Linked DNA regions of Homo sapiens: region 1 is linked to region 2. The links come from fine-mapping of genetic effects on gene expression. A gene starts in region 2. The other region holds a variant in brackets. All regions are shown on one strand. Distances are between the middles of the regions.

Evidence for each region. PIP is the estimated chance that this variant, and not a neighbour inherited with it, causes the effect. A credible set is the group of variants that fine-mapping cannot tell apart.
Region 1: its variant is the best candidate, but not a certain one, in a credible set for the expression of AKT3 in subcutaneous fat (GTEx, PIP 0.67).

What each region holds. Positions count from the first base shown.
Region 1 is chr1:243,501,743-243,517,306 of GRCh38, reverse strand. It overlaps AKT3 (AKT serine/threonine kinase 3), which reads left to right. Exons shown (of 14, transcript NM_005465.7): 13 at 4,881-4,983; 14 at 11,973-15,564. The coding sequence ends at 12,058. Among named protein-coding and RNA genes, the nearest start is that of MIR4677, 160 kb to the right of the region's middle. The variant G/A (reference allele first, on the strand shown) is at 8,535.
Region 2 is chr1:243,841,449-243,857,012 of GRCh38, reverse strand. It overlaps AKT3 (AKT serine/threonine kinase 3), which reads left to right and starts at 6,770. Exons shown (of 14, transcript NM_005465.7): 1 at 6,770-6,973; 2 at 13,731-13,888. The coding sequence starts at 13,843. RefSeq lists an enhancer at 7,361-7,861.

The DNA.
Region 1 (15,564 bases), 340 kb after region 2:
TGGAACACGCTACCCAACAGCATAAGAACACTTATTTTTCTCAAGGTCACAGATCATTTATCACAGTGTACCATATGTTGAGCAAAACAACTCCATGAATTTTAAAGGATTTAAGTACTGTAAAACATTTTCTCTTTGAAGGAAATGAAATTAAAAAAACACAGATCTATGGAAAATCCCCAAGTTCTTGGAAACTAAATATTAATCCATGGATCAAAGAAGAAATCAAAGGGAAATGAGAAAGTATTTTGAATGGACTGAAAACGAAAACACAATGTGTTTAGCTGTGATATACAGCTAAAGCAATACTTAAATTTATAGTACTAAATACAATTTATAGTACTAAAAGATATTTTTAAACATTAGAAAAGAAGAAAAGTGTAAAATTAATGACCTTAGCTTCTATCTTAAGAAACTAGGACTGGGCACAGTAGCTCACAACTATAATCTCAGTACTTTTGAAGGCCAAGGTAGAGGAGTTCGAGACTAGTCTGCACAACATAGTGAGATCCCATCTCTAAATAACAAAATATTAGCTGGGCATACTGGTGTGCACCTGTGGTCATAGCTGCTCAGGAGGCTGAGGCAGGAGGATTGCTCAAGGAGGCTGAGGCAGGAGGATTGCTTCAGGAGGCTGAGGCAGGAGGATTGCTCGAGGCCAGGAGTTTTGAGGCTTCAGTGAACTATGATCACATCCCTGCACTCTAGCCTGGGTGACAGAGCCAGATTTTGTCTCTAAAAAACAAGAAAAAGAAAAAGGAATTAGAAAAATAAGAACAAGTTAAACACAGTGTAAGCAGAACAAAGGAAATAAAGATTGGGATAGCAATCAATGAAATAGAAAACAAAAAATCATAGAGAAAATTGATGAAAGGAAAACTGGGCTTTTGAGAAGATCATTAAAATTGATGTATTTCTCACCTGACTGAAAAGAAAAGTGAGAAGACAAATAATAAATGTTGACACTGCTACAGATTCTATTGGTATTAAGTGGATAATATGGAAGCATTATGTATAACTTTATGCCAATAAATTCAACTATTTAGCTGAAATGGACACATATGTTGAAAGATACAAATTACCAAGAAGAAATAGATGTCATGAATAGCCTTGTACCTGCTAAAGAAATTATAGTTGTGGTTAAGATCCTTCTGACAAAGACACCAGACCCACATATTTTCACCAACGAAGTCTACCAAACATTTAAGGAATATTATCAGTTCTATACAAATTATTCCAGAAAATTGAAGATGAGAGAACATTTCTCAGTTCATTCTGTGAGGCAGGTATTAACTTGATATCAATATGCAAGAGATTTTTTTTTTTTTTTGAGATGGAGTCTTGCTCCGTCGCCCAGGCTGGAGTGCAGTGACGCGATCTCAGCTCATGGCAAGCTCCGCCTCCCGGGTTCATGCCATTCTCCCGAGTAGCTGGGACTACAGGCACCTGCCACCACAGCCGGCTAATTTTTGGTATTTTTAGTAGAGACGGGGGTTTCCCATGTTAGCCAGGATGGTCTTGATCTCCTGACCTGGTGATCTGCCTGCCTCGGCCTCCCAAAGTGCTGGGATTACAGGCATGAGCCACCACACCTGGCCCGCAAAGAGATTTTTAAAAGAATGCTATAGACCAATATTCTTAATGAATATATATGCTAAAATGTTTAATTTAATTTTAGCAAATCAAATCTAACAATAGATACAAAGAATCACTACCAGTGTGGTCTGTTCTAGGAATATAAGATTGATTTAACATTCAAAACCAATCACTATAGTTCACCTATTAACAGAGTACGAAGGAAATGATTATATCAAATGATGCAAAGAAAAAACTAAGAAAAATCCATCCTTTTTAAAACTTATTTAAACAAAAAATGAAACGCTCTGAGTGAATTAGGAATTGGGTTTTTTTTTTTTTTAACATGGTAAAGGAAAACAATTTGACAGTTTCTGGAAAAGTCAAATGTATACCTACCATACGGCCCAGCCATTCCACTCCTTAGTATTTGTCCTAAATAAATTAAATCATATGTCTACACAAAGACGTGGACATAAAAGTTAATAGCAATTTTGTTTGTAATTGCCCCAAACTGGGAGCAGGCCCTGTGTTCATTGACAGATGAGTGTGTCCATTGTGATACATCTATGTACTGAAATATTACCCAGCAAAGTGAGTAAACTATTGATACATGTGGTGACATGGATGAATATCAAAGTAATAATGCTAAATGAACAAGCCAGATAAAGAGTACATACTCTATGATCCATTTGCATAAAATTCTTTAAAATACAAGCAAATCAGTCATGGCAGAAAGTATGTCAGTCATGGCCTGCAGGGGATGGGAGGATGGAAGTACACATGGGCACAAGAAGACATTTGAAGTGGTAGATGTTTTCATCATCTTGATTTTGGTGACAGTTTCATGGGTATATACATATGTCAAAACGTATCAGTTGCATGTTTTTTGTTTGTTTTTTTGAGAGGGTTTTACTCGTTCGCCCCGGCCGGGTTGGAATGCAATAGCATAATCTTGGCTCACAGCAACCTCTGCCTTCTGGGCTGAAGTGATCCTTCCACGTCAGCCTCCCAAGTAGCTGGGACTACAGGCGCCCGCTGCCACACCCAGCCCAAGTTGTATATTCTTAATGTGTGCTGTTTAGTGTATGTTAATTACGCATCAATAAACTTTTTTTTAAAGTCCTTGCCCTCGTGGAACTTATATTTTATTGGTGATGAACATTGACAGTAACAAATACATGTATATCATATGTGTGCATGTATACGTGCCTGTGTATCAGATGTCGCAAAGTCTTGAAGAAAAAGCAATGTGAAGATAGAAAGTGAGGGGGAGGATAGCTGTTTAATGTAAGAAGGCGGTCAGGAAAGTCCTCAGTACACGTGGCATTTGAAACAGAGACTATTTTAAGCTCCCCTATAATCTTTTGAAAACTGTGTTAAGATAGGTTTCAGTTTGTTAAAGTTACAGGTCATCATTCTCTCATCTAAAAGGACAAGTTTCCCCTAACTTGAAGGCAAATTTAAATTTTTGACATCACAAAGAACCAGATGAAAAGGATGGGGCAGAGGTGAGCAAACCTACTCCTAGTGCCCAAGAGAAGCCGATTCCAGCCACAGGAATTTCTTGTGGTTAACTTCTGATTGGAAAGATAAAGACCTATTTTGTGAACATCTGTAGAATAGTAAATCAGAAAAACCCAACCAGAATTCCAGTCTTCCCGTTTTCTGCCAGATAGGGGCAATTACCCCCTTGGTTTTCTAAAAAAAATAAAAAAAACAAAATTGTTCCAGCCTCTGTCACCTCTGGGGTTCCCTGTGCGTGTGCATGTGATATGTGAGGCTGGTGTGGAGAATTTAGCCTGAGAGTCAGAGGGAGGGTTTCTAGCAGTGGAGTGACCTGCTTGCTCATGTCCAGGGGATCCAGCAGGGCAGCTAGAAAGAAATATGGTCTGGCACAATGGCAGGCTTCTCCTTGCCACTGGTGGAGGAGTTTGTTTCAGTTTAGGGATTAGTCGCCATTACCAGCTGATCAGTGGAACGTAGAGTTGGTTCATCCCCAAAGGAGTGCTTGCTAATCATGAAGACCTTAGAATAGCTGTGTGCTGGGGGTAAACAGAAAGAATTATAAAAAGAAGAGATTAAGAATGCTTTGTAGCATGTACCATAAACTGAAATGTCCCTTATTTTGAAAACCTGCTTTTAATTCTGCTCATCCCACGATTCTTAAAAATATAGTTCTGTCTAGAGAATAATTTAAAGATTTTCCTTATTATTTAACATACATTTGGTGACAGAAAGAGTGGGAAAATGCACTGATCTCAAGCCAATTGTGTATTTGTTTTTGTAAAATTTTTATAAAACATGCTGATTTCTGTCATTCTGTTTGCCATGTTCCTATCCCCGTGAGAACTGTATTCTAAAGCAGCATCCCCTGTTCTGAATGATACTCTGCAGAGCACGCACTCTGACCCTAATGCTCTGGGACTGGGCATCCTGTGCTAGAAGGAACCTGTGGGTTCCACCTGTCCCTCAAGGCTAGAGCCCTGAGAAGCAGGAGCCTCGTGTTAGCTCCTTCTCCCTCCCAACCAGTGGAGGTTCACAGGGCTCCGGCTCCTGAAACCTCCAGTAGCCCGAGACTTTCCTTCCACCCCCACCTTCCCTAACGCCATGCCTGCCGCAGGTGCAGTGCGAATGAGATGATTCCTGCCCTGTCAATCTCAGGGGAGCTACTCTTAATCTCTTCTGGGCTGTGGTCCCCTTTGAGGATCTGATGAAAGCTGTGGGCAAGATTTTGCATGTAACGTCAGGGGCTACCAGGAAACCCTTTTCCAGAGCAGGGCAGGCATCAATGCCCATCTCTTATCAGCAAATTCTTAGCAAAGTACAAAGTTGTAGTTCTTTACGAAGGGCAAAGGCAGCACTCTCATCTGTAACCTGGTGATAGCTGTATTATTAAGTTGTATTTTTATTACTACCCTCTTCAGCTAGCACTAGAAAGAGGTTGCCCGAGGAAGAGCCCACATCCTGGCACACTGCTCCCCATCAATATGGTTTTGCATGTATGTTTGTTATTGGGGAAAAAAACCAGCACAGATTTTTCAATATCCCTCTCCCGTCCTATTCAATGGTTTTCTTTTGTTGTTTTTCGTGATCCATTAGATTTTATACAGAACCACCAATTACCCACCGGTTGGTTTAGACTGTTGACTGGGAAGCCAAATATCATGTCTCCCTTACCCAGCGACTCAGCATTGTAGACTTTTGTTCTGTTCATTTAACTACGTGCTCTCTGCTTTTTTCCTAGAAAGGAATTTTCCTGAATTGAAATCAGTTAATAAAACTCTTTTTCTTTCTTTTTACAGCTTGTACCTCCTTTTAAACCTCAAGTAACATCTGAGACAGATACTAGATATTTTGATGAAGAATTTACAGCTCAGACTATTACAATAACACCACCTGAAAAATGTAAGTAAATTTAGAAGGCAATTGATAAATTTCTAATATAATTTCTCCTAATGTAATTGAAGAAAACAGTCTTTTAAAAACTCATCTGATATTTTCAAGATCAAATTCCACAGTGACTTACTCCATTCTATTTAAGAATATTGAATATTGAATTGAATTTAAGAATATTGAGTTCCCAGTGGTAATATCAAAAGACTGCAAGAAATGCTTTTCTGGGTAGGACAAATTATATAGAGAGAAATTGTAGATGAAATTACAGACTAGCTCTTCCTTACTGTTCACCAATAGATTGTTTTGACACCAACTGAAAGGATTGTGAAATAGAGACTCCCCTCTTTCCTAGACTTCGTTCATTCCCACATAACCTTCAGAATTTTGCCAGTTTTGGTCTCCTACTTACTTAATAGTTTTAAAATTCATGTAGAGTCACTCCTTTTTACTTAGCTCTCTCTTAAATAGTATTATCTGTGAAGACATAATTTAGTTTGCTAATACTTTTGGATACCTATAAATTACATATTTATGAAAACTGTGTGTTCATGTACCACTTCAAGTCAATTCATATACATTAGTATGTCTCACACTTGGAGAAATACCATAAATAAGTGGAGCTGTAATGAGGGAAAAGGTGATCAGACATAATTGATAAACATTTTCATGCTGACAGAGGTCTGTGTGTATCATCATTAACTTAAGAATGTGGATAAGATTGCGTTTCAGGGCAATATTTGGATGGCTGCAAGAATGCTTCAAGTTACACATCTTTGGGTTCACATCATAGTTTTTCTTTCCTTTTCTTTTTGATTCCTTCCCTATATGTCTTCTCCTCTCATTCCTTTTTTGGAGGCAGATTTATCCATAGTGCTGATGTGGACTCAGTGTCCGGGAGAGGGGCGATTGGAGGCTAATGCTGTGCCAGAGATGGTCACAGGCAGCAGATTCTACTGTCGAGAGGCAAACAAGGGGTCATGTGGGCCAAGAGGTCTTAATCTTGGGACCATGGTCTGGCCACAAGGGGATTGTGAACACCCTGAAAGTGAAGATATGATGACGTGTGTGTGCTTTTCTTTCTTTAGATTCACAAAAAGTTAAGGTGCTCCAGGTCCTGAAGTTGGGTCAGCCATAGCCAGAAGCAGGGCTTACCAACTTGACCGATGTCCAGGCTAAGTTGTGAAATACCAATCCATTGAAGTGAGCTACTCATGGTCAGTCCTGTGGTGAGGCAGAGTTTCCACTCAATCTTGTGCCATTGCTAGAATTTTAGAATCACTAAGAGTCACAGACAATGTTGGAAAGCCTGTGGAGTCATGGGCAAGTAGCTCAGCGCTGAGTAGAAATCATGGGCATAGGCCTTGGCCTCTGTCCCCAGCATAGACTGTGGCATTAGAATTGTCCAAAATGCTGGGTAACACCAGTGAGTTTTCGGATCGGCCCATGGGCAGTTCCTGCCATACAGCCTTTGCTAGGCCCTTTCATTTGGATATAATCCTAACTGTAATCAGACCACATCATTCCTCTGCTTAAAACCTTCCGGTGCCATCCCATTGCACTCTAAATCCAAACTTGCTCACACTGGTTTGCACAGCACTGACTGATCTGGGCCCTGTCCACCTCTCTGACCTCTTCCTGTTCCATCTTCCCCCACTGTCCCTGGGTTCCAGCCACACCTCGAACATGCCACACGTCACCATGCCTCGGGCTCTGGGGACAGTATTTATGGTGTCCAGGCCTGGAATGCTCTTCTTCCCTGATCTTACTTGGATGGCTCCTTCTTGTCCTTCAGCTCTAAGCTTACATGTCATTCCATCAGAGAACCTTCTTTGACCTCCTAGTCTGAAGAGCATCAGTCTGACAACATTCCCTCTCTCTCTTCATTCTCTGCATTGGCACCTTGACTTGCTGGTATTTTTCTGTTTGTTTGGTTAGTGTCTATTTCCGCCACTAACATGCAGTGGGTTGGAGAGGAAGGATCTAGTTTGTCTCATTCGTTATTAGCCCAAGCTCCTAGTTAGATGCCTGGCACAGTGTGCGTATTCAATAATACTTGTTAGGTGCATGAATACACAGAATATGGTGAGGGCCTAGGAACTTCAGAGCCGGGAGGACACCCAGGCTTGCCTCCCCTCTGAATATCCAAAGCAGATATTGGGATAGGAAGGTCTTGACAGGTCTCTTTCCTCAGTCTCAGCCTCTGAGAAAGTTTCCATTCTTAAATAGAGCATTTGGCATTTGCGTACCTTTAGAGCAAGTAAATATGTTATTTTGGAAGTCATAGAAATAAGAAGGCTCTAAAATGTCAAGCCAGGAGTAGATATTTTACTTAAGAAAGCTAAAAGTGAAATCCCAATTTGGGACATGGAGTGAGGCTGAAAAAGCCCAGGACTCAGACCTGGGGAACCTGCCTTGTGTCCTGCCTGTGCCCCTTACAGTTCTGGGCGATGGCCGGTCACTTTGTCCCCTGGAAAAGCAGGGAGCAGGGCTGATAGTCTCTCAGTGGCGTTTTTGTCCTCCCGTGTGCCTGAGAAGCCGTCTCTTTAGGAGAGGCACCGAGAGTTCTGCCAATTTGAATCACCCTATTTTCAATTCTGCTCAAGCACCAGATTGGCTAGTCCATAGTGTTACTGTATGCTGTGGGCCAGTCCATTTAGGGGGATGATAGGCCCAACGCAGCAAGCACCTGGCTGCAGGGGTGGTGTAGTGGAGGGCCGGCGGACAGGGCTGACTAATGCGATGCTCAGAAATGTGAGACTAGAAAGACCAGAGCAAATCAAAATGGATTTGGGTACAAATAAGGTCAATTAGAAACTGTTGTATATGACTCTTAGGCTAGTCAGTCATTTTTTCATGATTGACTTGAATTTCAAAGCCCTAGCTTTCAAGGACCAGAATCTCTTCGAAATTCATCTTACCTGCTTTATTCCTTACTCGACACCCGCGGGGCACTTGTCCTGATGAGAATTTGTCATTAGTGTGCATTTTATTGCTCAATCTCTAGGACTTCTAAAATGAGACTGAAATGTTAGAAGGTGTTAGAAGTCCCCCAGCACAGTTTCTAGAACATAATTTGAACCTAGTTCCTTGGCTTCATTAATCAGCAATATAAAAGCCATCAAGAATGTTTTTCCTGGCATGTCATATTTTACCACTGACAGCACCTCTGTTCTTAAATAACATGTGTCATTTCAGACATGGATCATGCTGTAAAAGCCCTACAACCTTGGTGTCTTTAAATGATAATAGGTTCACTTCTAGATTGAGACAGAGATACCTAGGAAGCCTGTACATTGTAGTAACTTTCAAGATGGTTATCAAAATCCACCTGCAATTGTAGGACCACAAAAGTCTGGCTTTTGTCTAGGCGCAGTGGTGCACACCTGTAATCCCAGCACTTTGGGAGGCCAAGGCGGGTGGATCACTTGAGGTCAGGAGGAGTCTGAGACTAGCCTGGCCAACATGGTGAAACCCCCTCTCTACAAAAAAAAATACAAAAATTAGCCAGACGTGGTGGTGCATTCCTGTGATTCCAGCCACTCGGGAGGCTGAGGCAGGAG[G/A]ATCGCTTGAACCCGGGAGGCAGAAGCTGCACTGAGCTGAGATCACAACATTGCCCTCCAGTCTGGGTGACAGAGCAAGACTCTGTCTTTTAAAAAAAAAAAAAAAAAAAAAAAAAAGTCTGGCTTTTGTGGGTGTCAGAAATGGGGTGTGGTCCTGCCCTGCTCCTGGGCCCTGGACAGTACGGAAACGAGAGCCCAGCAATGTCATCTGTTTCTGACAGGGCACACCGCAATTGAGGGGTGGGGAGGGCGCTATGGACTTGCTGTGTTTTTCCCTATTCAGGACCTCTGTAGCAAGGAAAGTCAGACGGAAGAGCTCAGCAGAGTATGCCCAGGCAAAGACTAGCATCGACGCATCTGCAGGCACCTCTGTTCAGCAGCCTCTCCTGCTGTCTGTGTGGCTCAGCAGAGCGCAGCGCTCAGCACTGGGGGCCATGGGGCCCTGGGCTTCCTGTCTTAGGGGAGCAGCCTTGATGGTGGTTAACTGCAGCTTCTGGGTTCTTCTAGGGCAACGGGGCAGTATTTTTAGTTTGACAGTTCCTGGATACATCCTAGATTCCCTTAAGGAGCAGATAAAATGAGAATCACTGAAACCTTGAACGGTGATTACATTCAACATAACCTTTTTCTTGCAGCTTTGAATAGTTTAACTGGTAAGAAACCGTTGCAGCTCCCTAAGTGCTAACACACAGAGGTTTTGTTGATAAAAGTCCAGGGTAGTACCATTCGTTAGCAATTGTCTTCCCACTTGCCACCTTGCTTGTATAAAACAGAATACAGTTATTGTTTAGAACAAATCAGCAGTTAGAAAGGCAAAATGTTCCATTTTCTACAAACAGCTGCAGTGACATGCCAGATTGTCCTCACTGGCGTTAATAATGGAACAGATTTGGGAATGTGTCATCTTTCGTTATCGCCATTGATGGTCCTCCTCCTTCCTCTTACAGAAAAAGAGGGTTTCTTTGAGATCTGGTCGCTTTTACTGCCATATAATGCCATTTGTTAAATGTTCTAAGAAAATCAGGCAACTGATGTTCCTTGGATGCAGGGATTCAAGGGATGTAGCAAGTAGAGTTGATCATTGTCTTCTTTTTCCAGATAAGTGTTTTTGAAAAACATAGTTCATGTTCATTATCATCACTATTCCCTATGCACAGCCTCTCACAGCAGGAACTAACTTGTGTACATTGACAGGCTCCGACTCAGAGTCAGCTGCCACTTCCTCCAGCTCCCCTCCCACCGCAGCCCCTGCCCAGGCTCTCAGCTCTTTTAGGGCCATGATCAGATGTTCACGCCTCATTGTTTCCAAGCCTGACAACAGAAAGGGGCAGGAATGATGGAGGGAGATCATTGGCTTTAAAGAATATCAAGGATTGGGGCCCTCAGGGATATCTGTGAAATTTCCTAGATTCAGAATTGTGATGAATGTGTTACTGAAGTGACAGAATGAAGGCTGTCTCTCAATTCTTAGCTGACACCAGCAAGAGTCCCTCCTCTTCCAAAAGGGTGTCTAGCACCTGCCCCTGTTGAGCATCTGGCTAACCTGGGTGCTGAACCTCGCCGGGCTGGAATGAGTCCTGGCCATGGCCCCAGGAGTCCAGGCAGCTCCTGCCCTTCCTGGCTGAGCAGGACAAGCACCAGGCTCCCCACTGCTGTCCAGAGCCAGCTGCAGGTTTGCTGTGCAGAAACACTGAGTAAAATAAAGCTGTTGGTGAGGAAAATTGTTTATTTGAAATGTGATTGGCTCATGTCAGAATCTGAACATTAAGGTTTTAGCTGCCCGTATTCTCTAGAGAGTTTTTATACTCTGGGGCTCAACCACGGGTACACCATCATTCCCAGCTCCTTCCGTTTTTACTGTAGCTAAAAATACTGCTGAAGGTATTTGATCTAAAAGATGTGTGTGACTTGCTTGGTACAAATATTGGAACCAATAACTTTATAAGGAGGTAGAGATTTCCCCAAATCTCAATACCTTCTAGAAATGCTGACTGCAGTTACAGTGGTCTATTTGCAGAAGAAGAGAGGGCCTCCGAGTTCAGTGTCTTACACAGAGCAGGGAGCCACAAATGCTTCTTGATGGATCAGTTCTCACCTAATACGAGGATATCTTCTGGTACATTAGGGGTCAGAAATTTTGGCTAATGCCAGCTTGATCCCATTTCTAGAATCTTCTGCATTAAGAGTGGGATACAGAAAAGAAAAACAGTGATACAAGAATGGAAGTGTTTATTCTTCAGACAAAGGCAGAGCCCCCTCCTCTTCGGAGTGACAGAGTCAGAGCCTCAGTGCAGTGGGATCTGGCCTGTATGCTTTCTTTGTTTACACCCACATCCAGCGGATGCTCCCTGGAGAGGTTAGAATATTCAAAAAAATTGGTAATGTACTTCCTATATGGGTTTGAGGACATCGAATTATTTTGCTTGAAGAGAAAAGGGTTGAGTATTGGAAAGATTCACTGATTTCCATTGCAGGACAGCATATGATTAAACAAGCTTAGAGGCAAGCACGGGGGATTTAAAATGGAGCACCTCCCCCAGGAGACTGTGAGGCCAGGGGGCCCTTGGGACTTTGTTCAAAGTTCTGCGGTCCTTGGGCCTGACGGGTGCTCAGCCCAGAGCAGATGCGTGGGAGCGCATGTTGACTGAGTGGCTGACCACGTGGCCACATACCAGGAAGAGCTTCCAACAGCACAGGACTGTCATCACAGGACATTTATGAGAACAGGGTGCTGATCATCTGTGATCTTTGAAATACAGGAAACCAGGAAAGCTGACAGGAGGAACACTGTGATTGTCAGCGGCCTGTTTTGATGCCTTTCAAGTCTCTTCCATTGTTTCCTGATGAGCTAGGACTCAGATGTTGACATCCTTCCCTCTTTTTCTTTCACTTAGTCCCTTCATGCTAAAGTTTTATCATAGGGAAATTGGGAAAGGTGAGTTAAGCCAGATGCTAGATGTTGAATGAAATTTCATAAGAAGCTTTATTTTGCAGTTGCACTTAAAGCATCACAAAGAAAAAATATAAGCACTTGAAGACATTCGATGATGAATTCTATACAGACTTTGGATGCTGTGGATTTCACTGACTTGCAGTTTTGATATATGTGGTTACATGAAATGAAAGGTTACTGAAGACTGCTCCTTCTTAAAAACTTCTGTTTTCTTCAATACCATTTTTTTCACTGTTTCATTGAGTCTTGAAATTTTGATGTCTTAGAGATGATTCTATAGTATTATTTCTTCATAGACTATGTATTTATGAAAATCAGATGATTTTTGAAGTATAATTACTCTACAGCTTATTGATGAACACAAGTTTATGGGAGCTATTGCCTCTGTTCATCTTTCCTATGTTCAGAGTTTAAAAAACATAGACTAGAGATAATGTTGCAAAAAATGAATGTGTAAAATTAAAATAGATGTTTCCTGCCCACAGATGATGAGGATGGTATGGACTGCATGGACAATGAGAGGCGGCCGCATTTCCCTCAATTTTCCTACTCTGCAAGTGGACGAGAATAAGTCTCTTTCATTCTGCTACTTCACTGTCATCTTCAATTTATTACTGAAAATGATTCCTGGACATCACCAGTCCTAGCTCTTACACATAGCAGGGGCACCTTCCGACATCCCAGACCAGCCAAGGGTCCTCACCCCTCGCCACCTTTCACCCTCATGAAAACACACATACACGCAAATACACTCCAGTTTTTGTTTTTGCATGAAATTGTATCTCAGTCTAAGGTCTCATGCTGTTGCTGCTACTGTCTTACTATTATAGCAACTTTAAGAAGTAATTTTCCAACCTTTGGAAGTCATGAGCCCACCATTGTTCATTTGTGCACCAATTATCATCTTTTGATCTTTTAGTTTTTCCCTCAGTGAAGGCTAAATGAGATACACTGATTCTAGGTACATTTTTTAACTTTCTAGAAGAGAAAAACTAACTAGACTAAGAAGATTTAGTTTATAAATTCAGAACAAGCAATTGTGGAAGGGTGGTGGCGTGCATATGTAAAGCACATCAGATCCGTGCGTGAAGTAGGCATATATCACTAAGCTGTGGCTGGAATTGATTAGGAAGCATTTGGTAGAAGGACTGAACAACTGTTGGGATATATATATATATATATAATTTTTTTTTTTTAAATTCCTGGTGGATACTGTAGAAGAAGCCCATATCACATGTGGATGTCGAGACTTCACGGGCAATCATGAGCAAGTGAACACTGTTCTACCAAGAACTGAAGGCATATGCACAGTCAAGGTCACTTAAAGGGTCTTATGAAACAATTTGAGCCAGAGAGCATCTTTCCCCTGTGCTTGGAAACCTTTTTTCCTTCTTGACATTTATCACCTCTGATGGCTGAAGAATGTAGACAGGTATAATGATACTGCTTTTCACCAAAATTTCTACACCAAGGTAAACAGGTGTTTGCCTTATTTAATTTTTTACTTTCAGTTCTACGTGAATTAGCTTTTTCTCAGATGTTGAAACTTTGAATGTCCTTTTATGATTTTGTTTATATTGCAGTAGTATTTATTTTTTAGTGATGAGAATTGTATGTCATGTTAGCAAACGCAGCTCCAACTTATATAAAATAGACTTACTGCAGTTACTTTTGACCCATGTGCAAGGATTGTACACGCTGATGAGAATCATGCACTTTTTCTCCTCTGTTAAAAAAAATGATAAGGCTCTGAAATGGAATATATTGGTTAGAATTTGGCTTTGGGAGAAGAGATGCTGCCATTTAACCCCTTGGTACTGAAAATGAGAAAATCCCCAACTATGCATGCCAAGGGGTTAATGAAACAAATAGCTGTTGACGTTTGCTCATTTAAGAATTTGAAACGTTATGATGACCTGGCAACAAAAAGTAATGAAGAAAATTGAGACCTGAGTGAAGATAAGAAATGATCTTTACGTGGCAAAATGAACACATCTTGAGTATTTAGGAAATGGGCAGTGAAGGCTAAGAACCTGGTGTGTTTCTTGGGATCATGGTACATTTATCACTGAATTAAGCCATCAGGGAAAAAACAACAAAAAAAGAGAACACCTCCAGCTTTTCTTTTTCTGTATATACTCATGTCCCCCAGATTCCAACATTTCTCACTGAAAGGGGGCATGTATGCAAACCTCATCTTTCTCCTTCATTAATGATGATCTTCAGATTAAACCCTTTGGTGCTAGGAGCTGACAATTTCCAAAGCAGCCTGTGAAGTCCTAGGGGCTGGGGGCCACTCTTGCGGCAAGCAGAAGGCCATCCTACTCCGCGGAGTGATCATGGAAATGTATTTTAGTTAAACTCTGACAGCTCCCAAACGGAAGACTACAGCATGACGTAGTATTATGATTGCATTGTATGAAAGAGCAAGTGACTTTCTAAGTAGGATGAATCATATTCATATGCAGATGTCTTAGCCTCTTGACGCTGGAAGTGTGGATTTATAGCTATGAAACCACTGCTGGCAGTGGGTGGGCCACTGGGACTGACGGGGGTTAAAGGGCATTTTACTAAGGCAGCTAAGACATATTCAGACATCAACGTTATCCTTCTTTTTCATATTTCTACCTGAGTGAAGTTCATCCTTAGTATTGAGTAGGAAGTTACAGTAAATGGTAGTTCATTCTTACTTACACACATAGCTAATCTTTTTTTTTTCACTTGGAATTATGTTGAATGTTTCATTTTGACAAAAAAGTAGACTAGAAGGTATGTTCTTTAAGTTGTCTTGCATCCATTATATAAGAAAGAAACAGGTGAGAGGAAGAGCAGAAAGCTGAGACTGGCTGATGTTCAGAGCACTTACTCCTCTAGAGGGAAAGCATGACACCGAACACTAAGCACACAGCTTTTTGTTGTTTTGGTTTTTTCTCCCGCAAATCTTAAAGTGATTCCCATGACCTTGGCCAAGGACACTTCTTAAAGATTAATGACTGGCACTGACATTGCCCCAGGCGGGCCACTCCTCACACTGGCTCTCAGTTCCCAGCCATGCCTGGGGCTCAGTCACTTCTATTCCACCCTCTGAGACTCCATTGGTGTCACACAAGGTGTCTTCTTGGCTTTGATTTTGAGAATCCCCTATTTTCACTTCCAGATCTGTCAGCTGCCATGGAGGAATAATAGAAAACCAGAAATGCGTGTAGAGGGAGATTTCTAAAACTTCCCTTGTGTCGCCCATAGTTGTAGTTTTGGGTTCTGGCAGGTGGAACACCCTGAAACCTGGAATCATTCTATGAGAATACAGTTCAGACTTTGCAGACTCCAGCCCATACTAACTGTCATGAAGCTTGACTTCTTGTCATAATGCAGCCATCTTGGAGGAAATTGGCCATTTCTGCTTAGATGGTTGGCAGGGTCGCGCTCAGCTTTGCTTTCTACACTAATTACATAGCATTATTCAAGTATTGTTTTCCATTTCCCATCCCTGATTTCCAGCTTCTTAAAGCTGACTGTTCTTGCAGGGGCCACTTGCTTCTCCTAGAGTACAAAAGTAAGGGCCTTCCTTACTAACTGCAGGGTCTCTCTATTACACCTCAACATACACACTTTGCTGCTACTGTTTGTACTGTCTACAGTAGAATTTCCTTATCTTGCTCCTGGTAGTGCATTACAGGCAAGCATGAAATGTAAAGTATTTATTTAAATAAAAAGAAAACCTCTAAATTGGTAATTGAATTACCTCCCTGTAGCTTTATAGTTTGTGACATTTCTTGACCTTGCTAGTTCTTTCATTAGATCTGCGCAAGATCTAGTCATCTGGTTAAGGATTTTAAGCAGATGCAACTATAAACCCAAGAAACTGTATTACTATTACTGTTGGTCATACTAAACCTGTCTATTTCCTGAAGTATATGACCCACAAGGATGTGGAATAACTAGGAGAAACTGTTTTTGTACACTGTACATCCTTAGTATTTTTACACGTATATGATAGGGATGAACATGATTTTCCTTCGTACAGACAGCTTAAATAAAGCACTATGTCAATCTGCTACTTCTCTGTTTATTGTTGTT
Region 2 (15,564 bases):
GTATGAAAAAGGCAATTTGTTGGAACATATTTATCAAACAGAAATACAAATATGTAGAGAAGACACTATTTTAATTAATTTTGTGCCTTGAACACCTGTTAAATATCTTATTCAGTAATAGCTGATAATTTTTTAATACATGTGAGCACACATCTAAATAAGCAACAGAGAAAATAGTTACAGCATAGAGAAGATTTTTTTGTCTTTTTTTGAGATAGAGACGTGCTCTGTCACCCAGGCTGCAGTGCAGTGGTGCAATCATAGCTCACTGCAGCCTCAACCACCCGGGCTCAAGTTATCCTCTCACCTTAACCCCTTCAACCACCAATAGCTGGGACTACAGGCGTGAACCACCATGCCTGGATAATTAAAAAAAATAACTTTAGTAGAGATAAGGTTTTGCTATGTTGCCCAGGCTAGTCTTGAACTCCTGAGCTCAAGTGATTCTCCTGCCTTGGCCTCCCAAAATGCTGGGATTACAGGCATGAGCCACTGCATTTTGAATGAGGCAAGAGAATATGCTTTTTAATAGGAATTTTAAATTGAAGTTTCAACTGAGATCTCAAGATACAAAAGTATGAAATTTCAAGCTTGGTCACTATTATGAAGGAAAGAATTCAAAACCAAATCTATGACTCAAATACTCTCATCCACTTAAAACATATACAATAGTGGAGAAAATTCAAGATAGGTTTGTGGAAGGGAGACTTGCACTCATCACCTCCTGTGCAGAGAAAATGGAGGATGTTTCTTCGGCTCATGCCGGGGACTTCCACGGGTTTCCATTGATTGTGTGGAGAGCTTGGAATGTGTTTCCTGCAATGGGGGTTGGATGCAGGGCAGGGGCATTTTGTGGACTGGGATCTGACTCCCATTCAGAAAACTGGGAAACAGGCTGCCCAACTGCTTGGAAGAGAATGGCCTGCTGGGCAAAGAATGTTTCAATGTTTTCTGTAGCCCAGAGTCCTATGGGAGGGAGAGAACTTGCCTGGAGCCATCTGGAGTTGCGCCTATGAGACTTTCTCCCAGAGGGGTGAGAAGACTCCAATAGGACTGAAGAAACTAAAGCTGAGGGGCCATCAGGAGCGCCAGCTGAAGGTAAGGGTGCATTACCCACATCGCAGAGATTGCAGTTAGGGTAGCCCAGAAGCAACTCTCCGAAAAGCCCCTGGACAGCTAGCATGAAGCACATGCCGGCAGCCTCATGGGCATGCTACCTGTACGGAATACAGGCTTGTGTACTTGGCTTAACGCTCTGCTCTCAAAAAGTTTTAAATTCTTAACTCTTCTCCAGCAAGGGGCCCAGCATTTTCATTATGCACTGGGCCTTGCAAATCATGTAGCTGGTTCTGTGTGCTAGGCTGAGAGAGTGCAAAGCTGGCTGACAGCGGTACCAGCTGGGTAAGAACTGTTTTGTCCTTCACCCAGAGACTGACTTGTGGAGTGGAAGAGGAAAATAAGATAGAGAAATAGAGAAGCTGAGCCTGCCTGCTTTCCCCACTACAAAGTTTGAATTCTAAATCAAATTCAGAGCTTTGATTCAAATCCAATTACTGAATCGAGATAGTGTTTGCAATTTAAAATGGTCATAGTTCTGTCTAGTCAACAGAAAAATTCTGAGACTGATTTTCTCCTACTATAAAAAGCCAGTATTATTTAACAAAATAGCACAGAATCAACAATTGAAGGACTTCATAGAGGGTTAAAATAGTGAGATGTAGATTTGAAACTTTTCAGTTAATTGTGAAAGTGTTTTGATTGGCAGAAGAAACTGTGTTTTAAAATGGATGGGGAAACTTTCTGGAACAGGACAGTATTTACATGAGATAACCGAGGAAGAAGTTGAGGTAATTATCCAGGTGAAGGTTGGAAATTTACTGTTGTTATTTCACTGCTAGCTGTTGCATGGGAAAGTCCAATCCCCACAGAGCTGATTCAGAAACAACTAGAAATGCACACCACCTCAGGAAGTTAACATTACATACTAAAATGAGGCTGTAGGATTATAATATGTATTAATTTATCACATACCACGATTCTCCTGCACAGCCAGGAATAATAATTGTGTATGCTTGTTGCTTTGGAATTAGAACATGAATTCTAGCTCGATGCTCCACAAGCAGTTATTTATTAGTGGTCAGTAACTTTTTGTGACCCAAGTGTCCTGAAATATTAAATGTAATGTCCAGAGATTGCTTAAGTTGCTAACAGATTTAGCCGTCTGACAATGAGAATATGAACAAAAAAAATTCATTCATACTCTAATAACATAGCAAAAAAATAAAACCTGAGAACAAAATAAGAGGGAGGTTTCCACAGGGCTTTAAGTAACCCAGATTCACACAGCACCAGATTAGTGATATATCTGGCCCTTGGCTATGCTCATATGTTCTTGTACAGGCACCTGGCCTGTGCCTTAAGAAAGACATCAGGACTTTGGGAGGCTGAGGTGGGCGGATCACGAGGTCAGGAGATCGAGACCATCCTGGCCAACATGGGGAAACCCCATCTCTACTAAAAATACAAAAATTAGCTGGGCGTGGTGGCAGGCGCCTGTAATCCCAGCTACTCGGGAGGCTGAAGCAGGAGAATCACTTGAACCCGAGAGGTGGAGTTGCAGTGAGCCGAGATCATGCCACTGCACTCCAGCCTGGTGACAGAGCCAGACTCTGTCTAAAAAAAAAAAAAAAAACAGAAAAACAGACAGACAGACAGACAGACATCAGGGAAAGGGAGAAAAAGACAATTAGTACTGATAACTATTGTAATGAACTGTGTGCCTTAGTCAGTTTGGGATGCTGTAAGAAAAATATCACAGATTGGGAGGCTTAACCAACAGAAATTTAAGCTATACTCCTTTAGAAATTGTTCTATTAATCATCTAGAATATATTCACTAATTACAGCTGTAGACTTAACGTGGTTATTTCAGAACCAACTGTGGCAGAGAGTGCCAATATAGATTTTTGTATTTGTTTGTAGCAGCTATTGTTAGTTTAACATAAATATATTCACATTTATGGTAAAGGAATCTTAGCTTGCTGACCACTCACTGTGTTTTAGATACTAATATTTCATAAAATTTAATTCACATAAGTTGTTGAAGTAGTTGTAACTGCCATTTCACAAATAAGGAAATATAAGGCTTAGAAAAATTAAGTAACTTGCCTGAGATGAGACAAACTCTGCAGAGAGAGGATTTGAACTCTGGTCTGCAAGTCTCCAAAGCACTTTTATGTTCTTTCCAATAAATCACGTTACATCCCAAGAGGAAAATACTATATAAACTGTACATAGTACACAGATTTATTAGAGCCGTCATTAGAACATTAGAACATGTATTTCTTCCACAAACAGGTATTCTGTGTCTGCTTTGTTCCATGCCCTCTCCTAGGATGACACACCCTTTCTATTAAGACAGAAGAGCAGTAACTTAATTTTTGTTATGTGATGCCCTGGTCTGAATTTTTGTGTTTCCCCAAATTCATAGATTGAAATCCTAACTTCCAAAGTGTGTTAGTAGATGGGGCCTTTGGGAGGTGATTAAGTCATGAGGGTTTGAGCCCTCAAGAATGGGATTAGTGCCCTTATAAAAGAGGCTCAAGATGGCTGGGAACATTAACTCATGCTGGTAGTCTCAGCTACTCAGGAGGCTGAGGCAGGAGGGTTGCCTGAGCCTAGGAGTTCCAGGCTACAGTGAGCTATGATCATGCCACTGCACTCCAGTCTGGGTGACAGAATGAGACACTGTCTCTAAAAAAAAAAAAAAAAAAAAAAAAAAAAAAAAAAAAAAAAACAAAGAAAAAGAAAAAGAGGTCCAAGAGAGTTCCCTCACTCTTTCTAAAATGTGAAGACACAGCAAGAAGTCACCACCTACAAACCAGGAAACGGAACCCTCTTTAGACACCAAATCTGCTGGTGCCATGATCTTGGACTTCCCAGCCTCCAGAACTGTTAGAAATAAATTTCTGTTCTTTATAAGCTACCTAGTTGATGGTATTTTGTTATAGCAGCCTGAATGGACTAAGACATTAGATGCTCTGAAATTCTAAATATCCTTCCAGTTTTAGTTACTCCCAAGAAATGGGGGAAGTACCAAGAAATAGCTCAGTATCAAACTTAGTCATTGGTAGTAAAGAAGAATGAACATTTTTCTTAAAATGAATAAATAACTAATACTGAGAAATGTTAATCTTAAGAATATTTGGTGTAATAAAGAATGAAGGCTTTCTTTGCAAAATTTAGGAGGGACATTCCCAGGGATGAACATGCTGGCTGCACTCCATATTACTGGATGTGATAACAAAATAGAGAAGAAATCTGCCACACACTCTGTATGGAGTACCGACATACCACAATCGGCAGATTCTACCAAATTCATACCGGCATAGTCTAAGAGAAAGAACAACGTTATTTAAATAAATAATATCCCTAATCAATAGTAATTCAATAACAAAATCAAACATGCTTTTATTATGGAAACTTATGAAACTACTATAGTCCACAAGCAAAAATTGAACAGAAATAAAAACTTATAATTCTTCAAATACATGAAGCCGAGAGTATATAATCCATTCTCACATACTGAATTTTAGGGTTTAATCCACCTAAGATTTAATGCAATCTGACCAGACTGGGAGAAATATTTTGAGGTAGTATGGCTCATAAGACACATTCAGTTCTTGTAAATATATTGATGTTAAATTTGGGAACAAATGAACATCTCACTGATAAGAGATATCTAGTAATTCAGTAATTCCGGATACTCTGACTCTCAAAAGTTAAGTATTTAAAGTTTCAGACACTCTTTTTAGTGCTGGTGTCATAAGGGACTATTTTCTTAAAAATAAAAAGCAAGTTGGGGTACTATGGAATAAAAATATGACCTATTTTTGTGTTTTACAGCAAGAAACCTGTAACCCAATAATTTTACCAATAGTGACTGTGAGAGGTCTGATAATTATGGGAATACATTATGTATATTTTATAGATACAACGAAAATAGGACAAAGTCTGTTTATTCATCAGCTCATAGCATGCTGGGAAATATGGGAAAAGGGGAAAGGCATGGTGCAGGACTTTCTCTCAGACGGACTGTGTTATCTTAAAATGGCAAATTTTGCTCCAGGGTGGTCAGGGAGACAAGTTTCCCTTACAAACGGAGAAAACTGACTTTTTTAAAAAACCCTTTTATTTGGTTTCCTACTCCTGTCCACAATCCCAACAGATGCACAGTTCATAAAAGATGTGAACCTGGAAGTATAAATATTAATACCACACAGTACATAAATACCAGGGGGCTACAGTATAAGAAAATGACTACCATAAGAGAGTTGTCAAGACATAGAAAAGCAGAGAATGAAGTGCATGTCAGGAGGAGGAACTCTTCTGCAGAAAGAAGCCACAGACATTAACAAAAATGTTGCAGTGGGAGAAAGTAACAGGTACATCAACAAGGCTAGAGCCACGTGGCGGGATAATAGGGATGCTGCCCAGGTGTTTCCAGAAGCGATAAAACTTGTAAACTTTTATAATTTTCTGAAGTGCGCTGCATGGTAAAATATGGTCATTGTGCAAAAAAGTTGTCCCCAATGCAGTCTCAGGAGTCACTGACTTCAAAATAAAGAAACGGTCTCTTCGTAGTAAATGTAGTACCTCGTGGCTTTCCCAAAGTCATTGAAAACGAATATCCCTAAAAAGGGTGTGATTTCAAGAGTGAATTACGATCCGCCCGCAATCTGTGTACCGTGTGTGGACGAATGCTTGCAGCGAGCGGTGCGGAAGGCTGTTCAGAGAGGTGTTTTTGGTCTGCCGTGGTCTCCTGGGATAGTCAGGAATGATTCTTGCTACGGGCTGACCCGGGTTCCCTCTTCCCCGAGGTGCAGGGGGTGGGGTCGGCTTCTGGACTGCTCCGCGCTCTCCGGTCCCTACCTCATTGGGCACCGCCCACTTCGTGGGCTTCCAGGTGCGAGCCCTCGCGCCGGGCCCATCTCCCCAAGGGGCCGCGGCGGACTGGAGGAGACGCCCGGGGCCTGGCGGCGCGCGCGTCCGCGGCCAGGGCGGGTGGGCGGATGCGCCGAGGAAGCGGCTGGGCGAGGAGCCTCCGCTCCCGGGCCTCGGGTGCCCGCCAAGGGCCACGCGGGCGAGGGGGAAACCCAGAACTTCCCGCCCGGGAGCGACTGCCCCCGCTCCCGGCTCTGGCTGGCTAGGGGGATGTTCTCGCGAGAGGAGAGGGGGCGCGGGGCACCGCTGGTTTGGGGGCGCGGGGAAGCCTGAGGACGAGGGCCGGGCAGGGAGGGGAGCAGAGGCGGCGGGCAGGGCCGGGGACGCGGGGAAGCCGCTCCCGCCAGTCGCCGAGAGCCAGCCCCTGACGTCAGGAGTTTTCCTCAAAGTCAACAACAAGCCCCGCGGCGACGGCGAGAACCGATCGGCGGCGGCCCCGAGCGGGAGGAAGGAGGGGGCGGGGAGGCGGCGGGGGGTCCCCTCAGCGAGGCGCAGCCCGGGAGGAGGCCGCAGAACCCCTCCCCGCGCCGGGCGCGCCCCGGGGCCCAGAGCCGCCGCCCCGCCGGCGTGACCCGGCCCCCGCCCGAGCGGTGTTTTCTGGTGATGAATTTGTAGCCGATATCCGATTCCCATGTAGAGTCTCCGCCTCCTCCTCTCCCCGCCGCCGCCCTCTCTCCTCCCTCCCCCTCCCGCCGCCGCCGCCGCCGCCGCCGCCTCCCGCTCCAGCTCCGCGGCCCGGCCCGGCCGGCTCCCTCCCTCCCTCCCCTGCAGCCCTTCGCTTGCCCTCCCGCCGGCCGCACCGGGCTCCAGGAGGCCAGAGGCTCTGTGGGGTGGGGGGAGGACAGGAGGGGAGGAGGAGGGAGGGGGGACCCCCGAGTCGCCCCCTCTCCTCCCCCCGCCCCCCCCCGGCTCCATCCTCCGCCGCCGCCCGAGCAGCTGCGGGGCCGCCACCGCCGCCGCCGCCGTTGCAGGTAACAGCCACCGCCCCCAACTCTAGCCCCCTCCCCGCCTGGCCTCCACTCCCTCCGGGCCCCGGGCCCCGGTCCGCCCTCCCTGCCTCCCTCAGGCGGGGGATGGCGGCGGGGTGGGGTGAGGCGGGGGCTTCTGGGTTGTCACCGCGCCGGGGGCGTGGGCGGGGGCTGGGTCACCGGAGGCTTCGGGTGTGGGTGTGGAGGCCGGGGGATGCCCAGCGCGGTTGACACCGACACCCCCCGCTTTCCGGGGAAAGCTGGGGGGCGGCGGTGCGCAGCGGGCCGGGGGAGGGGTGTTCCCGGCCTAGCGGTACCGTCTGTGTCTGGGCTGCCCCGGCCCGGCGCCTGCTGTCTGCGCAACTCTCGCTCCTTCCCCTCGCCCCTCCCCGCCCGGGCCGCGCGGCGTGGGGAGGGGGCGCCCGCCTGGACCGGGGGCGGCGGCGAGGTTATATAACGCGTGGAGCGCCGGTGTCAGTGTGTTTGGGTTGGGGGGAGGGAGCCGTCTGCCGCGCGCCCTGGCGCTGAGGCTGTCTGCGCGTGGGGTGGGGTGAAGGCGAGGATGCACAGGCGTCCCCGGGGTCTCCTTCCTTCCCCCACCCTTCCCCGCCACTGGCGCGCAGGAAAAGACGGCACTGGTGGGGTGGGGGGGGGGGTGTGTGTGTGGGAGGTGGGTAACGTGCTTGTCTGTGTTTTTAATAGTAGTGGGGTTTTGATCCGCTTGGGAGTTGTGTGCTAAGAATAGAAATGTGCGGAAGATGCTGGGTTTGGCTGATCCAGTGATGCTGTCGCTGCTGGCGGCGGCGGCAGCTCTGGCTGCAAGTAAACAGACCAGCCTCTTCCTTGTCCACCTCCTCCGGCGCATCGGTCCGCATCAGCCATGATGCCGGTGGGGCCCTTCAGAGCCCAAAGTTGAAGCCTAGCTGGTTGCTGTGTTGACCCTGACGCCGAGGCGGGGTCACCATCCCTTGTTTGGGATTTCCCGGGAATCTACAGTTAGCCTAGAGATAAAGAATCTCGTTGGGGCCAGGTTTTTCCAATACCGGTATTTACTGTTTATGTTCTGAAAGCAGAGGAAATGCTTACCCACAAGTCAAAGCTGGGATGCTCACATTTCTTCCATCAAAATAATGTTGTTATGAAAATAAAACCAACTCATTTCACCAATGTGGCATTTTGGTTGAAAGCCTGGTAGTTTGCAATTGATGAAGTTTCCAAATAGAAAGTCAACAGTGAAACCTATGCATCTATATTGGGTAATTTCTAGCCATAATAAAGTGTTCACACTTTGATTTTAGTTGAGGCTAAAGTAAAAAATAATGGCTTTTTGTAGTTAATACATTGGCAGTTGTCTCAACAGTTTAGACATGTGTTCCGTATTTGGTAAAGCATGGTCATATATGTCTTTTAGTAGAACTATACATCACTAGGCAACCACTGGGTTTTGTCAGTGGTTGAAGCTGACAAATGAGTGAAACTCATTGGTTTAGGTTATGTATTTACTTAGGAAAACGAAGGTGGAAGAGTCTAATAAAGATGGTGTAGGAAATGAAGATTAGTCTTCAGAACTTGAGTATCACTTGCAAAATATGTATAAACGAATACAAACATTCCGGGGGTGGTTGTCTAAAACATGAAAATATTTTATAATTAAAATAGCAACTTATTACTAAGTTACTAGTTTTCCAAGGTTTATGACTTAATGCACAATTATATGCAAGATATATATCCGGACTGTAATTGTTTTCCTTTTGCCAGTACATTATCTTGACTTGGAAAGTTTACCAAGGAGATAGTACTTGAAAGTTTACAGGGAGATGGTACTTGAAGATCTTTTTGTTTTCCTTACTAGGGTTGACCCCAATATCTTTGATTGGCTTGAGGTTCCAGTTTTAAAGTGAGGGAGGACAAATATTACATGAATGAGACTGTTGAAATTTAGATGAATGTAGGGTTTTAGTTTTCAGTTGTGTATTTGCATTGTGGTTTTGCAGCATGTTTTCTTACAGCGTTTTAAAAATAGTCCAAAGTAATCCTGCAAAAATTGTGAAATTATTATTTGTATTCATTTGGTTTTCTTTCCATAATTATTACTGGAGTGAATTGTTTTCCAATTTAAAATTAATTTTTGGCTTAATAATCTTGACATCGACTCTAAATTGTATATGTCAGAGTACTTTAAGGTTTTGCTTTGGACTTTTTAAAAATTAATTTCATAGCTGTAAAATATTTTAAATAAGATTATATTTAACAAATACTGGAGTGTGAACTGTGTGCTGGTTTAATTAAAAACTTTTAATATTTACATTTCATTCAGAAAATCACTGTCAGAAGGAATCTGTTTTCAGAATCACTGCAAATCTAAATAAACGTGTTGATTAAACTTACTAGGGAACAAATGGACTTAGCATAGAGACTTGTGGAAAGTAAGGACTTATTTTTTAAGCTGTAGCTTTTGATGTAAACATCAGAAATTTTCTCATAAAAATTCAGTGGAAATTTCCAGCTATCTGGGTTTCTTTAAAATGAGGAACCTGTTTTACAAATTGATTTTGTAGAAGTTTAGCCTTTACTTAAACTTTGTGTATTTTCGTGAAAAGATAGCTATGTTTTCTTTTGTTATTATATCTTTTAGTTCAAGAATTTGTCCTTGGGAAGGTAAGGCAATCACTGTTAACAACTTGTTAGTTGGATGCTTAGCATGATTTGATAGGAGCTTGTCTTTATAGTGTGATTAAGTTTTGAAGTGTTAAAAAGAAAAATTTAAAACTATCTTAGATTTGAGCAACAAAATGCAAGAACTGAAAAACCATTTTCATTTTGAGCAAATCAGTCTTGTGATCTGACTGGCATTTTTATTTTTAAGTTAATATGCATTAATAATACAATTAATTTTTGTTAGAAGATTTGTGTTACTCCAGGTTTCAGCATGTGCATCAGTATTTTAAATCCTGGTCACACAGCATACCTTCTTTTGGAAAGATAGTCCTGAATCTTCCGACAACAAATACTTTGTCCTGATCTTTTACATGGGATAGGATTAGATTCAGTTTAGAGTTAATGCTAACCAATGCCTGGTAAGCAGTTGCCATGTGCCAGGCACTGTTCTATGTGCTTTACCTGTATTCATTTAATCTTTCAAACAACCCCTGCTACACTTTTGAAAGTGATTTTCACATAAGAAAAACTTATTGTGGCATTCTAAAAATACCTTTTATTTAAACTTTCCTAATTCTGCAACACTTCTAGTGTTTTTCTTGTTTGTACCTATTATTACAGTTAACAGTGATAATTCTAAATTTGCAAAATTTGGTACAATAATTTCCATAGCATCAAGTTAATAAAAGTGTATTGACTGGCCCATTAACATCACCTTTCATTTGTTTAAAATGCCAAATTAAATAACTCAAATGTTTACAGATTTTATTATAGCATCATAGTCTTTAATCAAATTAGATGTAAACTCATTTTCTCTGCCAAGTAATCTTTGAATACTAATGGGTAGATAAAATTAATATATGCTTCTTGACTTGTTGATGTGTTTTTTAGTTCTGTTTCTTTTCAGTACTCTATCACCAACTACAGGTATTTCTCATTTCTAAATATTATGAGAGGAAAGTAAAAAGATTTACTAGAAGAAAACACTAGAATTGCAAATGATAATTTTTCTTCCCTATATTAGATAATTCCTATATATATATGGATGGATTTAAAAAAATTTATAATTAGGGAGATTCCCAAGACAGATTTTAGGAGGATTTTACATGTATATTGGAATCTATATTAGAAAGCTTCTGACTGTATTTGGGGGACTAGGGGATGGGAGGGGAAGGAGGACAGTATTTTTCCAATAATGGAGCTTAGCCCAAATTTTGTCTTAGTTGAAATGCTGTTTGAATGTTTTATCTTCCAATTATCAAACTTTTGAGGACATGAACTATGTATGTATAATCATGTCTTTCACTTATGATGCCATCTATATATGAAGTAGATACTCCGTAGATTTTAACTTGCAGAATCATAAATATTAGCTCTGGAAGAGCTATAAAGCTATTCAGAGTTCATCTAATGCTATACTTTCATTTTTATGGCTCCGGAAACTGAGGCACAGATAATTAAAGTGACCTTATACAGCATCACTCTGGGTGGGGCAGGGACTCAAGTTTCTTGGTCTTTCTGGTGCTCTTCCTAATACACCATTGTGATGAACCTTGTTAGAGGATTCCATACCTATTGGGTAGCTCAGTTTAATCTGGGGGTAAATTCTGTCAAGCTGATTCTTGGTATTTAATGGACCATATATCAATTGCATTTTATATGTATGTATGGATTTTTAAAAATTTATGATGAGGCTCCCAAGACAGATTTTAAAATGATTTTACATGCATATTACAAAAATATGGCCAACTGTGCAACCAAATTCTTTTTCTTTTCTTTTCTTTTTTTTTTTTTTTGAGACAGGTTCTCACTGTAGCACCCAGGCACGGTCACCACTCAGCATAGCCTAGACTTCCTGGGCTCAGGTGATCCTCCCACCTCAGCCTCCTGAGTAGCTGGGACTACAGGTGCCTGCCACCACTCCCAGCTAATTTTTGTATTTTTTGTGGAGATGGGTTTTGCCATGTTGCCCAGGCTGGCCTTGAACTCCTGGACATAAGTGATCCTCCTGCCCTGGCCTCCCAAAGTGCTGGGATTACAAACTAATATCCCTTTTTGACACTCTACAGCAACAGACTCATGGTGATTTTGAGGAGTCTCAGCCTTACCTATAGGTTCTGCCTGTGACCTCATAATACATGAGGCTGGTGGTCTTGCATTCAGCTACATAGCTTTTGTCAGGCTATTTAGTCAGGCTGTCTAGAGAATGTTTAGTCTTGATTCCTGACTGTTAAATGGTTAAGCTCCACACTTAATTTGCATTGAAGAATGACCTGTAGTCTAATTTAGCGCTAGGTTGGGAGTCTAACACTGAACTTAACTGCTATGTATCATTTATCACAAACCAAGTTGAGAGAGTATGTTTGTGTAGTCCATCTATCCATTTTTCTAGTTATCTAAAATTTATGATATGATTCTTGACCACATAACACTGGTGTACCTGGACCACATTTTTTGGTCCCCTTCTGTGCAAATGGATTTACTAATTTTATGTTGGCATTTTCCTTTTTAGTTTGAGAGTGACAATAAGCAATGACCCTGTAAAACTCATTGCTGTATATGGGAGGGTGTTTTTGAGGACTTTCCCGCATACATCTTATGAAGAAGACCCATGGGATAAATTCGATGTTTGTCCCAGGAAAAGTTGTATTTCTTCTGAGGAACTTTTTTTGCTTTTTAAAAAAATTTGTGCAGCGTGGACAATATAGCGGGACCCCATCTCCACAAAAATTTTTTTTAAAAATTAGCTAGGCATGGTGATGCCTGCCTGTAGTCCAGCTCCTCAGGAGGCTGAGGTGGGAGGATTGCTTGACCCCCATTGGAGGCTGCAGTGAGCTATGATTGTGCCACTCTACTCTAGCCTGGATGATGGGGGGAAACCCCATCTCAAAAAAAAATTTTTTTTGGATACTGTAAATAGGAAAGCCTGTTGTGTTTTGTTATTTGCATTGTCTTCCCAAGAGCTCCATGCCAAATTTGTGACGTATCTTTCCCAAGTATGTATGCCTTTACTCTGACTTCTTTTTATCTTAAGGCAGTATAGTTTTGGAATGCAGGCTCTGGAGTCAGACAGCCTGGGTTCAGATCTTGGCTCCACATTTACTAGGTGTGTTGAAATTGAGCAAGTTGGTTTATCTGTGTGAGCCTCAGTTTCCTTGTCTGTGAAATGGAATTAATAGTATCCTCATAAGGTTATAAAGATCACATAAGAATAATAGATGTAAGTACCCGTAACAGTTCTTGGCACATCTTGAGTACTAAATATTTTTTTCTACTTTCATATTCCCTTTGTTTCACTTTACTTTATAATAAGTACATAATATGAAATCAATTATTTTTTAATCTCCTTAAAATATTTCTTGGAACAGGCAGAGTAAGAATACGTAAATGATGAGTTCTTGGTACGTTGTATTTTATATCACTTAAAGTATTCACGACTGGTTGTGGTGGCTCACTTCTGTAATCCCAGCACTTTGGGAGGCTGAGGCGGGTGGATCATGAGGTCAGGAGTTTGAGACCAGCCTGGCCAATATGGTGAAACCCCGTTTCTACTAAAAATACAAAAATTAGCAGGGCGTGGTGGCGCACACCTGTAGTCCCAGCTGCTTGGGAGGCTGAGGCAGAAGAATCGCTTGAACCTGGGAGGTGGAGGTTGCAGTGAGCAGAGATCGCGCCACTGTACTCCAGCCTGGCGACAGAGTGAGATTCCGTTTCAAAAAAAAAAAAAACAAAAAATTTACAATTGCTTCTGAAATTACAGGGATTTAGGGCAATTAACTTTCATTCTCTTCCCTCTTCACCTCAAATACACATCACCAAACAAATTTTCTCTATTATTTGGGTAGGCGTGACTGGTTTTCTTAAGACTTTTTTGTTGCAACCTCTTAGGTTAAAAGTTTCACTATCATTTGAAATTGGTCACAAGACTAGGGAAGTGCTTTCATTATAGAACTATTTAATAAATAAGTTCCCCAGTTTGAAGAGCCAGACTTTTATGTGAGGTCAGGCCAGTTGAAGACATTTACAAAGAATTAGTTGTTTGTTATTGCTCTGTGAGTTGCAAGAATGGAAAAAAAATTCTTTCTTCAATACTTCCTTCCAGGCTGAGTCATCACTAGAGAGTGGGAAGGGCAGCAGCAGCAGAGAATCCAAACCCTAAAGCTGATATCACAAAGTACCATTTCTCCAAGTTGGGGGCTCAGAGGGGAGTCATCATGAGCGATGTTACCATTGTGAAAGAAGGTTGGGTTCAGAAGAGGGGTAAGTGCTCCGCAAACCAAAAATAATACGGTTGGTAAGAGTGCTAGCAGTGAGTGGTGTCTTAGAAGTTGATCTTTTTTCTGATACTGTTAAACTGTGTCATGCTATGTCTAGTAAGAGAGAAATGATATATTTAACGTGTGTTAGGAATTTGCTTGTTATTAAGGGATTTTTTTGTAATTCTTGATTTTGAGCATTTATAATCTAGTTAAGTTAGGTTTGACTTTCTGGTATGTTGTGTGTAGCGTGTTACAGAAAGTGTTGTATTTTTCTGTGGTGTCTACAGGTTCTGTAATCTGGAGAGATATCTTTAGAATCATTTAATATATGTAAAAGTACGATCCTATATGCATTTAATCACATGTAAATATATAAATAAGAGAATTAAGCCAGTTTGAATGGTTGTAGGGGAATGGCTTAAAGTAGAAAAGGGGAAAGGGTTCACCCGCAAACTCATGGATTAATCCCATAAATTTGGTAAGTAAAGTCCTGACGTAAAAGGCCAAATGAGGACAAGGATTTTTTGTGTGTGTATGTTTATGTTTAATTTCGTATTTTTATTTTTCATCATCTAGGTTTAATACACCTTGTTCACTCCTACTTTAGATAAATAACTTAAGCACATTATTATTTTTTATTATTAAAGGAAGAACCCTTCGATGTAAAGCGGTTTATCATCTGTGAGATCACCTGCTTATGTGGTCAATATATTTATTAGAAATTTAGAGTTTAGATTAGTTGCTAGGCAACTACTGTTTACCCACATGGCCACGTCGAGTAGGATGAGGACTGTTCCATTCTCAGAACCTTTTAGTTCCTGTATATCTACTTTATGGTTACAAGTTCCCTCCTAATATTGATTTTAATATTTTTTGAAGGTCTGTAGTAAATACCTATCCTGAAAAGCTGTTGTCATAGTTAAATGTGATTATGGATTATTTTTTAAATGAGCCTTATTAAGTCGTAACTTACATAATAAAATTAAGCAATGTAAAGTCATAATTTGATGAGTTTTGCCAGAGATACACAGTAGTGTAACAAACACTCTGAAAACGATATAGTGGTTATTTTCATTAACCCGAGAGGTTCCTTTGTTCTCCCTTGCAGCCCAGTCCTCATCCCTTAACCCTGGCAACCACTTTATCTGCTGTTACTATAATTTTGCTTTTCTAGAATTTCATATAAATGGAATCATGCAGTACATAGTTTTTTTATGGCTGATTTCTTTTACATAGCATAATACTGTTAATATTCATCCATGTCTTGTATATCATTAGCTTTTTTTTTATGGTTGAGTAGTAGTTCATGGTCTGGATATATCACAGTTTATCTGTTAATCACTTGTTGGACATTTGGGCTGCTTCTAGCTTTTGGTTAGTACGAATAAAGAGTCTGGACATTAGAGTGCATGTCTTTGTGTAATGTGTTTTCATTTGTCTTGGGTAATAACTTAGGAATGATATTGCTGGGTCATATGGTAAGTGTGTGTTTAACTTTATAAGAAGTATATGTTTAACAAACTGCCCAGCTGTTTTCCGATGTGCCTGACCATTTGTATTGTCAAGTGTAATTTCTTTCAATGTCATTCTCCTGTTATAAATTACGAAAGCATTTTCAGATTTCAGTGCTTTATAAAGGCTTTTTTGATTTACTTTTTAAACGTATTTATATTATTC